Regions from separate parts of the Homo sapiens genome. Here all the other regions are linked to region 1. The links come from fine-mapping of genetic effects on gene expression. A gene starts in region 1. Each other region holds a variant in brackets. All regions are shown on one strand. Distances are between the middles of the regions.

Region 1 (4,242 bases):
TAAAAGACAAAGGCGGGTGTCTGAGAGACTGGCCGCATCAGGGAAAACAGTGAAGGAGGGGTGTCTGATGCCCAGGGCATGATGGGGGAGGGGTCAAGGCCTGCAGGCCAAAGGAAGCCAGCTGGGGACAGATGGCAGACAGCATCCCTCACCCTGTGGCACAAGCCTGGAAGCTGGGTCTGCCCTCCCTCAGGAGCTGTGCAGCAGAGCCACTGTTGCACTGTGACAGGACACCTTGATACCCGCTTCTTGGATGGAGAGGGTGCACTTGTTCTGAATGAGGAGCTCAAGGTGGGAAAATAAGCTCCGAGCTCTGTCTTTGCCACAAAGATGGCAGCAGAGGCCCTGAGTTCATCTGACTACATAGGTGATTGGGAAGGACTTCTGACTGTTCTCGCAGGGTCCAGAGGACCTGACTCTGCCACCAGCTCCCGGAGGGTGGGGGCGCTCCTGGCAGCGCCTCCCCTCCACGGGCTCTGCTTTCCTAGTGGGGTCAAATCAATTACTTGCAGGTCTCTAAATGCAAAGTGCAAAGTTCCATGTATTGATTCATCTAATCCTCAAAACAATCCTGTGTGCTTTTCCAAGCCCATTTCACAGATGAAGAGGTTGGATTGGTGAGGGGGTTTTCCACTTTTACAAATTTTTAGTTGACAAATCCTTCTTGGGAGAAAAGAGTACAAAAAAGACCAATGTGTAAAACAGACAGATTGGAGCAACTCTGTTTAGGGGAGGAATGGAGGGAGATAAGGCTCTCCAGAAACAAGAGGCCCTGAAGACACATCTATGAAGTCAGCCTTAAGGGCTGAGCCTGAGGACTGGTGAAGCTCACTCAGCTGGACTCCCTTCCCCAGGGCCACAGATTGCCTGTGGCTGAAGTGAAGTTGTGGAGAGCGCCTCGGGGGCTGGGACTGTCCGCCCGACACCTGGACACCCTGCTCATGCCCGCCTGGGGCAGTGCTGTGAGGGTGCGGGAGGGCCACTCCGCGGAGGCCCTGACAGGCCATGCGTTCCTCTGATGGCCTGTCCCACTTCAGAGCCCAGGACCTGCGTGACAACATCCCACAGCCACTTCAGGAAAAGAGGACTAGGAGAGACTGGTGAGGGCAGCCAGGGCTCTGCTGAGCAGTGGGACAGCGGGGAAGACAGAAATCCTCCAGGGTCTGCCCAGATGGCCAGAGGGCGAAAGGGGTGCTCCAAATCACAGACCCGCTGCAGCCTTGCCCTTAGACACCACCCAGGTCTGTCCCCCAACTTCATAGACCAGGAAACTGAGGCCCAGAGAGAAAGAGGTGAATTTGCCTAGGTTTCTCAGCTGATGGGTGGCACGGCCTGGACAAGAACCCAAATCTCTTGACCTCTGGTCCAGTACCCTTTTCCAAAGGAAAAGGAAAACATGGTTTTGCGAGAATAACACAGAGACAGGGCCAAATAAGTCAAAATGAGGACTAGACACTTGAAGGTAGGAGCCCTGTATCTGCGACGCGATTCTCTGTTAACCTGCCGGGTGACCTGGGGCAGAAAGCAACCCCCAACCCTGGTCTGGATCCAGTTTCCTCCCGAGTGGGGTCTAACACCCTCACCAGCACCTTCCACTCTGGAGTGAGAGGGACAGGTACAAGAGCGCCGCTGCCGCCTGGGATCTCTGCACAGCCACTTCGCAGGCAGCCTGAGAAACGTCCGTTGCTCCACCAGGCGGAGTTCTGCCCCGCGAGTCTTCATCCCAGGTAAGGCCCCCCCACCTCGTGCCCTGAGTCTACGCGCGGGCCTTTTCCTTTGAGCCAGGGATACACCCGCCGCCGGCCCCCACAGGTCTGCGCTCATGCACATCGCCTTGCATCCGTTCAGTTACCGGCACCCGCTCCCTCGCTCGCAAACTCCCGCACTAGCCCGGCCACCGCCTCTGCTCGCGCGCGCGGGGTGCTGGAGCCTCACCGCGGGCGCTCTAGCCCCGGGCGGGTTCCCGGGAAGCCGCGGCGAGCGCGGGGAGGCGAGGATCCCGGCAGAGATGGGTAGGGTGCCAACGCCCAGGCCCCGCCCTCTCCACCCGGCCCCGCCCCCGCAGGGCCCGCCCCGGCCGGCAGGGAGGATGTGAGCTCACTCCCGCCTCCATGTTCCCGGAGTCGCCTGGAAGCGTCCGCCCAAGGTCGCGGGCCGCTTGGGGAGTCAGCAGCGCGCCAGGCCCCTTCGGGCCCCACACGCATTAGGTGCCTTCTTGATGGGTACGGAGTGAACGCGGGCGGCGGCGGGACCGAGGCAGCGCCCAGTTTGTAACCGCCGCGCCGCCCGTGCCCGCGCGCGCCACACCCCAGCGCGCTTCCGGCCGGGCCACGTGACCGCGCGTGCACGTGTTCCGGCCTCTCCGCTTCGCCGCTCCGAACCTCCTCCTGGTCGTCCCGGCATTCGTCCACGCGGAGCCGGCTTGGGCGGGGCCCGGGAGGCGGCGGCCGGAGAAGCCGCGGAGACGCGAGCGCCGAGCGTCGCGAGGGAGCAGGCCCGGGCAGGCAAGCGGCGGCCTCCGCCATGAACCCCAGGGGCCTGTTCCAGGACTTCAACCCCAGTAAGTTTCTCATCTACACCTGCCTGCTGCTCTTCTCGGTGCTGCTGCCCCTCCGCCTGGACGGCATCATCCAATGGAGCTACTGGGCCGTCTTTGCCCCCATATGGCTGTGGAAGCTTCTAGTCGTCGCAGGCGCCTCCGTGGGCGCGGGCGTTTGGGCCCGCAACCCTCGCTACCGCACCGAGGGAGAGGCCTGTGTGGAGTTCAAAGCCATGCTGATCGCTGTGGGCATCCACCTGCTGCTGCTCATGTTCGAAGTCCTGGTCTGCGACAGGGTGGAGAGGGGCACCCACTTCTGGCTGCTGGTCTTCATGCCTCTCTTCTTCGTGTCCCCCGTGTCCGTGGCTGCCTGCGTCTGGGGCTTTCGACACGATAGGTCGCTGGAGCTGGAGATCCTGTGCTCGGTCAACATCCTGCAGTTCATCTTCATCGCCCTAAAGCTGGACAGGATTATTCACTGGCCGTGGCTGGTGGTGTTTGTGCCCCTGTGGATCCTCATGTCGTTCCTTTGCCTGGTCGTCCTCTATTACATCGTCTGGTCCCTCCTGTTCCTGCGGTCCCTGGATGTGGTTGCCGAGCAGCGGAGAACACACGTGACCATGGCTATCAGTTGGATAACGATTGTCGTGCCTCTGCTCACTTTTGAGGTCCTGCTGGTTCACAGATTGGATGGCCACAATACATTCTCCTACGTCTCCATATTTGTCCCCCTTTGGCTTTCCTTACTAACTTTAATGGCCACAACATTTAGGCGAAAGGGGGGCAATCATTGGTGGTTTGGCATTCGCAGAGACTTCTGTCAGTTTCTGCTTGAAATTTTCCCATTTTTAAGAGAATATGGGAACATTTCATATGATCTCCATCACGAAGATAGTGAAGATGCTGAAGAAACATCAGTTCCAGAAGCTCCGAAAATTGCTCCAATATTTGGAAAGAAGGCCAGAGTAGTTATAACCCAGAGCCCTGGGAAATACGTTCCCCCCCCTCCCAAGTTAAATATTGATATGCCAGATTAAACTCCTAGAGAGGACCCAGGCACACACAGACTCCACTTGGCCTTCGCCTCTTGTTCATTCATCCCAAACCTGGAAATGGAAACAGGCTTCAAACACTCGTCTCACGCCGTGTTTGAGATCACCGCCTCATCAGTATGCATCATAGATGGAGGTGGTTTCAGTATGTGGGTGTGTGTGATGTGTACCTGGGTAAGAGACTTGCTTTCCAGGTTCGCACTTTCAGGTGTAGCTGGGGGCAGTAAGTCGAATTGTTTTAGTAGGTCCTCAAAAGGAATAACCACACAGCTGTTTGTTTAAATGCTACTGTACCTATCAAAACTATTGTTTAAAAAGTATTTTTATACACTGCTAATCTAAAATTGTATTTCAGATTGTGCCTGTCATAACAATAGCAAATGTAAAAAGTTCTCTTTCCCACCACTTGTTTATAAACCTCATAGTTGATATTTTTAGTGTTCCTACTGTTAAAATACTCTCTCCTTGGGCTTTGCTGATACTGGTCTTTAATATTCTGATAGGTGAATTTTTCTAATGGAATGAACCCATGCATATATAGTATTTATATGAATATTTTAGCAGTGTAATATGTTGAATTCTAGTTCTCTGCATTACCATTATTACGTTAAAGTATTTTTTAAAGCTTAGGTGTGAAGATATGTGTCTATT
Region 2 (4,242 bases), 560 kb after region 1:
CACCATACCCAGCCTCAAAAAACATTTATTGAGAGCCTGCATTGTGCCAAACATCTTGCTGCATGCTGGGGATACAGAAATGAGTAAGACATGGCTGCTGCTGGGTGGGGCAAACTTGCCAGCTGATTTCTTTAGAGCAAAGGACATTTGCTAATTTGTATTTTTTTCTATATTACATGTTTTAAAGAATAAGCAATTAAGTAAAATACAAATATCATCACATAATATCTTTACTCTTAGAGACTCCAAAGCTGAAAGTTTAAATAAAAAGTTAAAAAATGTAAATCTGTAATATTTTCATTGATTACCATGTAGTAGAGAGAAGAGTGGACTGGGTACCAGGATCATGGCTCACTGCAGCCTTGACTACCTGGGCTCAGGTGAGCCTCCCACCCCAGCCCCCCAGGTAGCTGGGACTACAGGTACACACCACCACGCCTGGCTAGGCAACGAAACCTTTGCAGGAAACCAAGATCCTGCCCAAACCTGGCTCTTCTGCTAATTGGGTAAGTCCATGAAGCTTTCTGGGCCTGAGTTTCTGCATAAAATCACACTAATAACAGCTACTTTATGTCTTAGAATGTTTTGAGGATCATTGAGAAAATACTTCACAAACCGGAAGTTCTAGAAAGGAAAGCAATAATAATCACTTCTAAAATGAAGCTGCTTGGCCAGGCATGGTGGCTCATGCCTGTAATCCCAGCACTTTGAGAGGCTGAGGCGGGTGGATCACTTGAAGTCAGGAGTTTGAGACAAGCCTGGCCAATATGGTGAAACCCCATCTGTACTAAAAATAGAAAAATTAGCCGGGCGTGGTGGCGGGTCCCTGTAATCCCAGCTACTTGAGAGGCTGAGGCAGGAGAATCGCTGGAACCTGGGAGGCAGAGGTTGCAGTGAGCCGAGATTGTGCCACTGCACTCCAGCCTAGGTGACAGAGCAAGACTCTGCCTCAAAAGAAAAAAAAATGAAGTGACTGCAGTGAAGTATCCCGATTCTTCGGTTACAGGTATCTTTGGCCTTAGAAGGAGAATGGCATGATAACCCGAGTTAATGCAAGACAGGGGAACTGGCAGGTCTTCAGAAACAGCTGTTGAACCCAGGGATACTCATTCCCTTGGCCAGCCCCTGATTATGGCCATGGTCTCTAAGGAACCCGGATGATTGATCCCATAGGGAGTCCCCAAACATCACGTGGTCAACGATTTCACCGAAGGAACTTTTTCTGATGGACTCATTATGGAAGAAAATACATATAAGCCTTCTTTGCCTTTTCCACCTAAAAGTGGTCTGAAACAAGGAAGAAAAGCACAGATGATGATCTGATAAATATTATTTGGAAGTCGATTTGGTGGAAACGGGTTACAACTTGGGAGTCAGGAGAGGCCTTTCTTGTGGCAACCACCAGGTGGCACCAGATCCCCAACACAGTCAATACAATCTTTCCAAGGGGCCACGACCTTTTCAACCTGGGGAGAGCAGGGAAATAAGAGAAATTGGCTCTTGTTTATAGGTGGGGAAACTGAAATGGACATAAGTACATGCACTGACATGGGAACAGGCTCAAAGTCTGGAGCCAGAAAGTTCACACCAACAATGCAATGTGGGGCACCCAGCAAGAAAGGGAGATTGGGTAGGTGGAAGTAGCCAGGGATTCAGTAGCTGCTGGTTGGATGTTGGTGAACGAAGTGATGTGCACAGCATGGTATTAAGCGTGGATGCTGAGGGAAGCAATTCCCTGAACAAACATTGCCTGGGCCCTTCCTCTCCACAGAAGCAGGGACTAGGTAGGCCTTGCCTCAGAGGTCAGTACAGGGGCCAAGGGGCAGAGGCCTGGGGAAACCTTAGGTGAGAAGGACACTAAGCAAGAAGGTGGTGAGGTCATAGGGAATAGCATGTGCAGAGGCCCAGGGGTGCGGACGAGTGGGTTATGCTTCGGAAACTGCTAGTAGGTCAGGCCAGTGACTGGTTAATGTGGAGGAGGAATGCAGAGGAGCACATGGGAGCCCTTGGGGGCCTTAAAAATTACCCACAAGAAGGATAAACCAGAAACTAAAGAGATGGTTGCCCACAGTGGGAAGGGTGGGTACCCATGGGGCAGCAAGATGGCGGAATGGAGATGGATTGGGAATGAGAAGGAATGATACTTCTCTGAGTATCTTTGTATTTAGAGCCAT[C/T]GTAATGTTCCACGTACCCTGAAATAAATAATTAAACCCAACTAGCGTGTAGGGGAACCCAAGATGAAATACAAACAGTAACACATGAACCTAACTCATATGAAAACACAACCACACTGATGGGAGTAGGAGACAAAGAAAGCAACAGAACCAGCCCAGGCAATTCGGGAACCAGTATTTTAACTGGACTCTATAAAGCCAAAGTAAAAAGGACACCAATACTGTAATGTAGTTAGTAAATGTGTTTCTCGCAAGGAGATGTGTTAGCAAATGGGATGTTACTTTACGGATACACCAAGCAACACATAAGGTAATACATCGTAGATGATGGGAGCTAAGCTGCTCACTGTAGGGGAAAGAAGTTACAATTAAGGAAAGGAGGAAGGCCAAAACAAACCCCAGGTGTTGGACTGGAATTGGAAGCATCAGTATCAATGCGTTTTTTTTTTTTTCTTTTTCTTTTTTTTTTTTGAGACAGGCTCTCATTCTGTCACCAGGGCTGGAGTGCAGTGGTGTGATCATGGCTCACTGCAGCCTCGACTTCCTGGGCTCAGGTGATCTTTCCACCTCAGCCTCCCAGGTAGCTGGGACTACAGGTGTTTGCCACCATGCCTGGCTAAATTTTCTGTATTTTTGTATTTTTAGTAGAGATGAGGTTTTGCCATGTTGCCCAGGCTGGTCTCAAACTCCTAGGCTCAAGCGATCTGCTCACCTTGGCCTTCCAAAGTGCTAGCATTACAGGCGTGAGCCACCACGCCTGGCCATAATTCATGTTTTTTGATATATATACAAGACATAAAGATAGAGAGATGAAAATGTGTGTGTGTGTGTGTGTGTGTGTGCGTGTTGAGGGGGGCTCAGTATAAATACTTGTATTTTCTAGCTCTGGCCACTGAGAGGGCTCGGAAGCAATTGGACCACAGTAGCAACAAGTACCAGTTGCTGTAGCAGGTCTTGATTTCTAAATGCCATTCTCCAGTGAAAGGAACCAGGGCTCCTTGGAGAAATGGTTGATTCCAGGGCTGACGTGGGAAAGATACAGATGAGTCTGGAATATACTGTGATGCTGGAAGGTAAAGATGTGCTTAGGAAAGGTCGAGGATGCACTGAAAGGTCAGAGGTGTAACCTGAGGGGCTCCCAATGGCCAGAGCTGGAACAATTTGAGAACAAAATAAACAACGGTAGTGTTGGATTATAACCTATATAATAAAATAAATGTCCATGATTCCATGCTGATATAAAAATCTACTGAATAAAGAAGTAACTAAATGACGGTGAGGGACAGCTCATGGACATTATCATTAAGTGGACATCATGGTAATGGTTGTGGCAGACAAGACCCACTCACCAATGGATGCTAAAGTGGGAATTCATATAAAGATACGTAGATACAGAGTGGGAAAAAAGCTGAGGAGAAACAGGATGTTTGCATAATCTCAAAGTCTCTCCCCATGATTATATTAATGTCCCAGTGGAGAAACTTGGCAGACACCACTTTAGCCAAGCAACCAAGGTAAACATCACCAGTAAGAAGACATATCGACATCACAAGCCCCTTGATAAGATGCACCAAGAAGGACATAACGCTTCTGTGGAATTCTTGCAAAAATGCATAACCTCACCCTAGTCTTGGGAAAGCATTAGACACACACACACTCTGAAGGCCAGTCTACAAAACAACTGTCAAAGGTGTCAAGGTCACAAATGATGAGAAAAGACTGAGGGACTGTCACAGATGAGGAGAAGAAGGGGACACGTTGACCAATCGCAGTGTGGACTCCTGGAACACTGAACGGACATTACTCAATAAAGCTGTACCGATTGTAATTTCCTGTTTCTGATCATTGTCACGCAGGAGATGTTAATGTTAGAGGAATCTGAGTAAAATATAGATGGCAACTTTCTGTACTATTTTGCAAGTTTTCCTTTAGTTTAAAAATATTTCTAAATAAAAAGTTTTTAAAAAATGACTGATGCTTATGTCCTGCCCTGTGAGTGAAGGGCAACTTTCATGTTTGAGCTCTTGTTTTATGCCAGGTATACTCTGCACATTTCCTAATTGAATCC
Region 3 (4,242 bases), 63 kb before region 1:
AAAGATGCTTGAAATTGGCTTTGTGTAGCCTTGTTATAGCCTACATTTGAACTGGGGTCAAAGAACATGATACATTTGAAGTCATGTGATCATTATAAACTATGAACAATAAAAACTGATAGCTTTCTGGCTCATTAGTCTTGCAGGGGCACACAAAATTACCTCATTGATAAACATATCGATCCAAAAATGGGAGTACCAAGTTCTGGTCTCTTATGACAGAACTTATCTTAGTTCATAAAATATTTTCCAGAAAAAGTTTCAAGGAAGACAGCATATTCACATGTCATTTTATATTGGGGCCTTTCTATTTGGAAGATAGTACACAAATGCTGTTTTAAAACTGCTAACAGACATGAAGTAAAGTGACTTGAGTTTAGCCACAGGGCTCAGATAATTGACCTGCATTCTTCTGTTCCCAACAACATGAGAAACCTACGCAGAGGTCAACTTCCCCTTCTTTCTGGTTTTAGGTATTCATCTGTCCTTTTTCTTCTAAGGATCTCTCTTTCCACCTAACAACCAAAACCCTTTTCCACATTGAGGGGAGCCCTGCTCCAACTCTGTGAGAACGCCCGAGTGCTATCTGTGCATGTGTGGTGACTGAGGAGAGGACAAGGAGCACTTGAAATACCTGTATTTCTCCATATCCTCTGCAGAGAACTCTCCTGCCCACTTCCCTTCTAAGTAAGTCACAGAACAACAGGAAATCAAAAGGCTCGGGACAGGGAAGAAAAGAAGAGAGTGTGTGCATCTGTCCTGTTTTACCCTCTATGAGGCATTAAAAACAGGACTACGCAGATGCAAACAATTATAAATACATGGGCTACATTCAAACAGAGCAGCCCTTAGGAAGGTCTGAAATGTCTAAAAATTAACAGAACTTCTCATAATGAGTCATAGTCACTTAACTAGTCACTGCACCACACGCACTCTGCTTCCAGAAAAGTAGGTCTTCGACTCTGAAGCCTGGAGCTATGAAGCATCACTGAGGCACCTCCCTATTATCTTTCACTAGCCCTGCTGGGTGACCTGTGCTCACCCGAGGCCTCCCTGGCTCAGTGATGCTTCCATCCAAGTCCTGGAAGGATAGCTAGCTTTCTCCTTTTCACCTCTGGTTGACCACCTTACTGTCAGACCAGAACTTGCTGAAGAATGAAAAAAACTGATTTGATTTTTGGGTTTTTTCTCTTCAGTTCCCTACTAAACTCTAGATCTGCTTCTTAAAAAGTCATCTAGATAGATATGTTTATAAGAAGAACAGATTTTTTAAAACTCAATTATGTAGGAGAAAGGGAAGGGCATGGGGTAAAGAGACATTTATAGAGCATAAGAATTATGCCCAAAAGGCTATTTCTTTATAACAAAATGAACTGAAGGTATTTTTTTCACTGCTATATTTTCTTTTTCTTTCTTCTCTAACACCTTCATGGAGAATAGTTGCCATATTTTAAAATAAATAACAATGGATATTCTACTCACTATGGAAGCACCATGTGTCTACACTGTGACAGGGGACAATGGAGGGTAGCCAGGTTCTTGCCCACATGAAATTCACAGTCTAATACATCCTTTCATTTCATTTCTCAACTCACAAGTGCATTTCCAGAGAAAGAAACAAAATCCTGACACTAAGTAAACTTGCCCATGGTCAGTGAGCGGCAAGGCAGGGATTCAAACCAGGTCTCCTGACTCTAAAGCCGCGTTCTCGTCCCTCCACTGTGCTGAAAGTCCTTAAGTAGCAGCAAATGGTCATTTTGACTCCCATCTTTCACTTTCCAGTCATTGTTTCATAACCTTCAACACAGACTAAACCTGCTACTTTTTTTAGTAACATTATTTAAAGGATAGATGGTTAATTTATCAATGAAAATCTCTGAGTATTTATAGGAACAAAATTATATGTTCTTGATTATATGGAATAGCTTCATTGTTTTCGGGGACAGTAAGACTCTTAAAATTATTTTATTCAGAAATCACAGATCAGGAAAGCCCAAAGAGATTATAATCATCATAGTCTATAATGTGCCAAGATTCAGAAAGCCCCAGAAGATTCTTTAGACAGAATTATTCCTGAGAACAAGCTCAGCCCTCTCCTAGTATGCTCAGCCCCAAATTCTTCATAGGCCTAAGACATATGAGAAAAGGCAAAAAGCTTCCTGGGGGCTTCTGCTATTTCATTTCAGACATACCTGAATTCGGCAGTTGCTGTAAAGGATTCATGTTCTGTGATTGAGAACACAAGAAGAAACCCTTCCCCACTCCGAAAGTAGTTATCTCGAATGGCTGCGTAGTCCTCTTGCCCAGCGGTGTCCAGAATATCTATCTGAACTTCTTCCCCATCAAGAACCACTTTCTTTCTATAACTGTCAGCTTTGGTAGGTTCATAGTCTTCTACAAACTGAGGAAATAAACATTATCGGTAATTAACAAAGTCTTAAGGGGAA[C/T]AAAATCTGCCAAAAAACAAAATTCCACATATGGGCACTTCACACTATGAACAGGACACTACAGAAGCAACATTTTACGTAACACTTCTGTTCTTTATAGCTCTGTTTTGCCATTTTTTGTTTTTAAACAATACAGGCAGATATCCCAATTTACAGATGAGGAAACCAGGCACAGAGCAGAACACTTGGCAATATTATTGTCAGTATAAAATTTTAATGCAAACACCTGCAAGGGTGAGAAACTGGAATTCTTTTTTAATTATACTTTAAGTTTTAGGGTACATATGCACAATGTGCAGGTTTGTTACACATGTATACACGTGTCATGTTGGTGTGCTGCACCCATTAACTCGTCATTTAACATTAGGTATATCAAAAAACTGGAGTTCTTATTCATAACGGAAGTATAAAATTCATCTGAAAAGTAATTTGGCAAGATGTATGATATGGTCTGGTTCTGCATCCCCACCCAAATCTCATCATTTAGGTTGTAATCCGAATTATCATCCCAATGTGTTGGGGAAGTGACCTTATGGGAGACAATGAGATCATGGGGGCGGTACCCCTATGCTGTTCTTGTGATAGTGAGTTCGTTCTCACAGGACCTGATGGTTTCATAAGGGGCTTTTCCCCACTTCGCTCTGCACTTCTTCCTGGCGCCTTGTGAAGGACATGTTTGCTCCCCCTTCTGCCATGATTGTAAGTTTCCTGAGGCCTCCCCAGCCCTGTGGAAGAAAAGAGGCTATACACCTCTTTTCTTTATAAACTACCCAGTCTTGGGTATTTCTTCACAGCATCAAGAGAATGAACTAACACAGTGTACCAAGAGGCTTTCAGTGGTGTGGGTTTTTGAGAAAGGAATGAAGTAGTACCAACGCACGCTGCAACATGGAACAACTTTCAAAACATGATGCTGAGTGAAAGAAGTTAGACATAAAGGCCACATATTGTATGATTCCATCTATATGAAATGTCCAGAATAGGCAAATCCATAGAAGCAGAAAGCAGTTGCCAGAGGCCAGGGGTGGGACGGGGAAGCAATAACGGGGAATGACTACTAATACGTAGGTTGGTTTTTTTTGGAGTGATGAAAGTGATCTAAAATTAGATAATGGTGATGGTTGCACATCTGTATGAATATACAAAAAAAACCTATTAAATTGTACACTTTAGGCCGGGGCAGGCAGATCACCTGAGGTCAGGAGTTCGAGACCAGCCTGGCTAACATGGTGAAAACCCATCTCTACTAAAAATACAAAAGATTAGCCAGGTATGGTGGTGCACACCTGTAATCCCAGCTACTCAGGAGGCTGAGGCAGGAGAATCACTTGAACCTGGGAAGTGGCGCTTGCAGTGAACCAAGATCGTGCCATTGCACTCCAGCCTAGGCAACAAGAGAAAAACTACATCTCAAAAAAAAAAAATTGTACACTTTAAAAAGAGCGAATTTCATATGTGCATTACATCTTAATAAGGCTGTGATTTAAAATTTTTTTAACTTAAAAATGGAATTGAAAATGTCCAAGTGAATTAAAGGTTATTTGAGGAAGACTGTTAAAAAGAGCCTTGTATTGTCAGTTAACAGCTACTCAAAAATAAAAATATTAAGACATGTTTAGTATTAGGTTCTCTTCAACGTGTACTAATAAATTATCTCCAAATAGAGATGTGAAAACTTGCCTGTGCTTTCAAGTGTCCTTCTTTTAACTCCTTTCCAAAAAGAAAAATACACGCCAAAAAAATCCAACACACGACTGTCCCCTGAAAATCTCTGAATTCTACCATAAATTATCTC

Evidence for each region. PIP is the estimated chance that this variant, and not a neighbour inherited with it, causes the effect. A credible set is the group of variants that fine-mapping cannot tell apart.
Region 2: its variant is the best candidate, but not a certain one, in a credible set for the expression of TMEM185B in whole blood (TOPMed, PIP 0.57).
Region 3: its variant is the best candidate, but not a certain one, in a credible set for the expression of TMEM185B in whole blood (INTERVAL, PIP 0.60).

Annotation. Positions count from the first base shown.
Region 1 is chr2:120,221,258-120,225,499 of GRCh38, reverse strand. It overlaps TMEM185B (transmembrane protein 185B), which reads left to right and starts at 2,100. Exons shown (of 1, transcript NM_024121.3): 1 at 2,100-4,242. The coding sequence starts at 2,524. The coding sequence ends at 3,576. RefSeq lists an enhancer at 1,144-1,807 and silencers at 1,902-2,062, 1,782-2,151, 2,302-2,501.
Region 2 is chr2:119,657,394-119,661,635 of GRCh38, reverse strand. It overlaps a transcript of CFAP221 not described here. Among named protein-coding and RNA genes, the nearest start is that of TMEM177, 20 kb to the left of the region's middle. The variant C/T (reference allele first, on the strand shown) is at 2,175.
Region 3 is chr2:120,284,033-120,288,274 of GRCh38, reverse strand. It overlaps RALB (RAS like proto-oncogene B), which reads right to left. Exons shown (of 5, transcript NM_002881.3): 3 at 2,193-2,401. Among named protein-coding and RNA genes, the nearest start is that of RALB, 33 kb to the right of the region's middle. RefSeq lists enhancers at 566-735, 4,129-4,242. The variant C/T (reference allele first, on the strand shown) is at 2,448.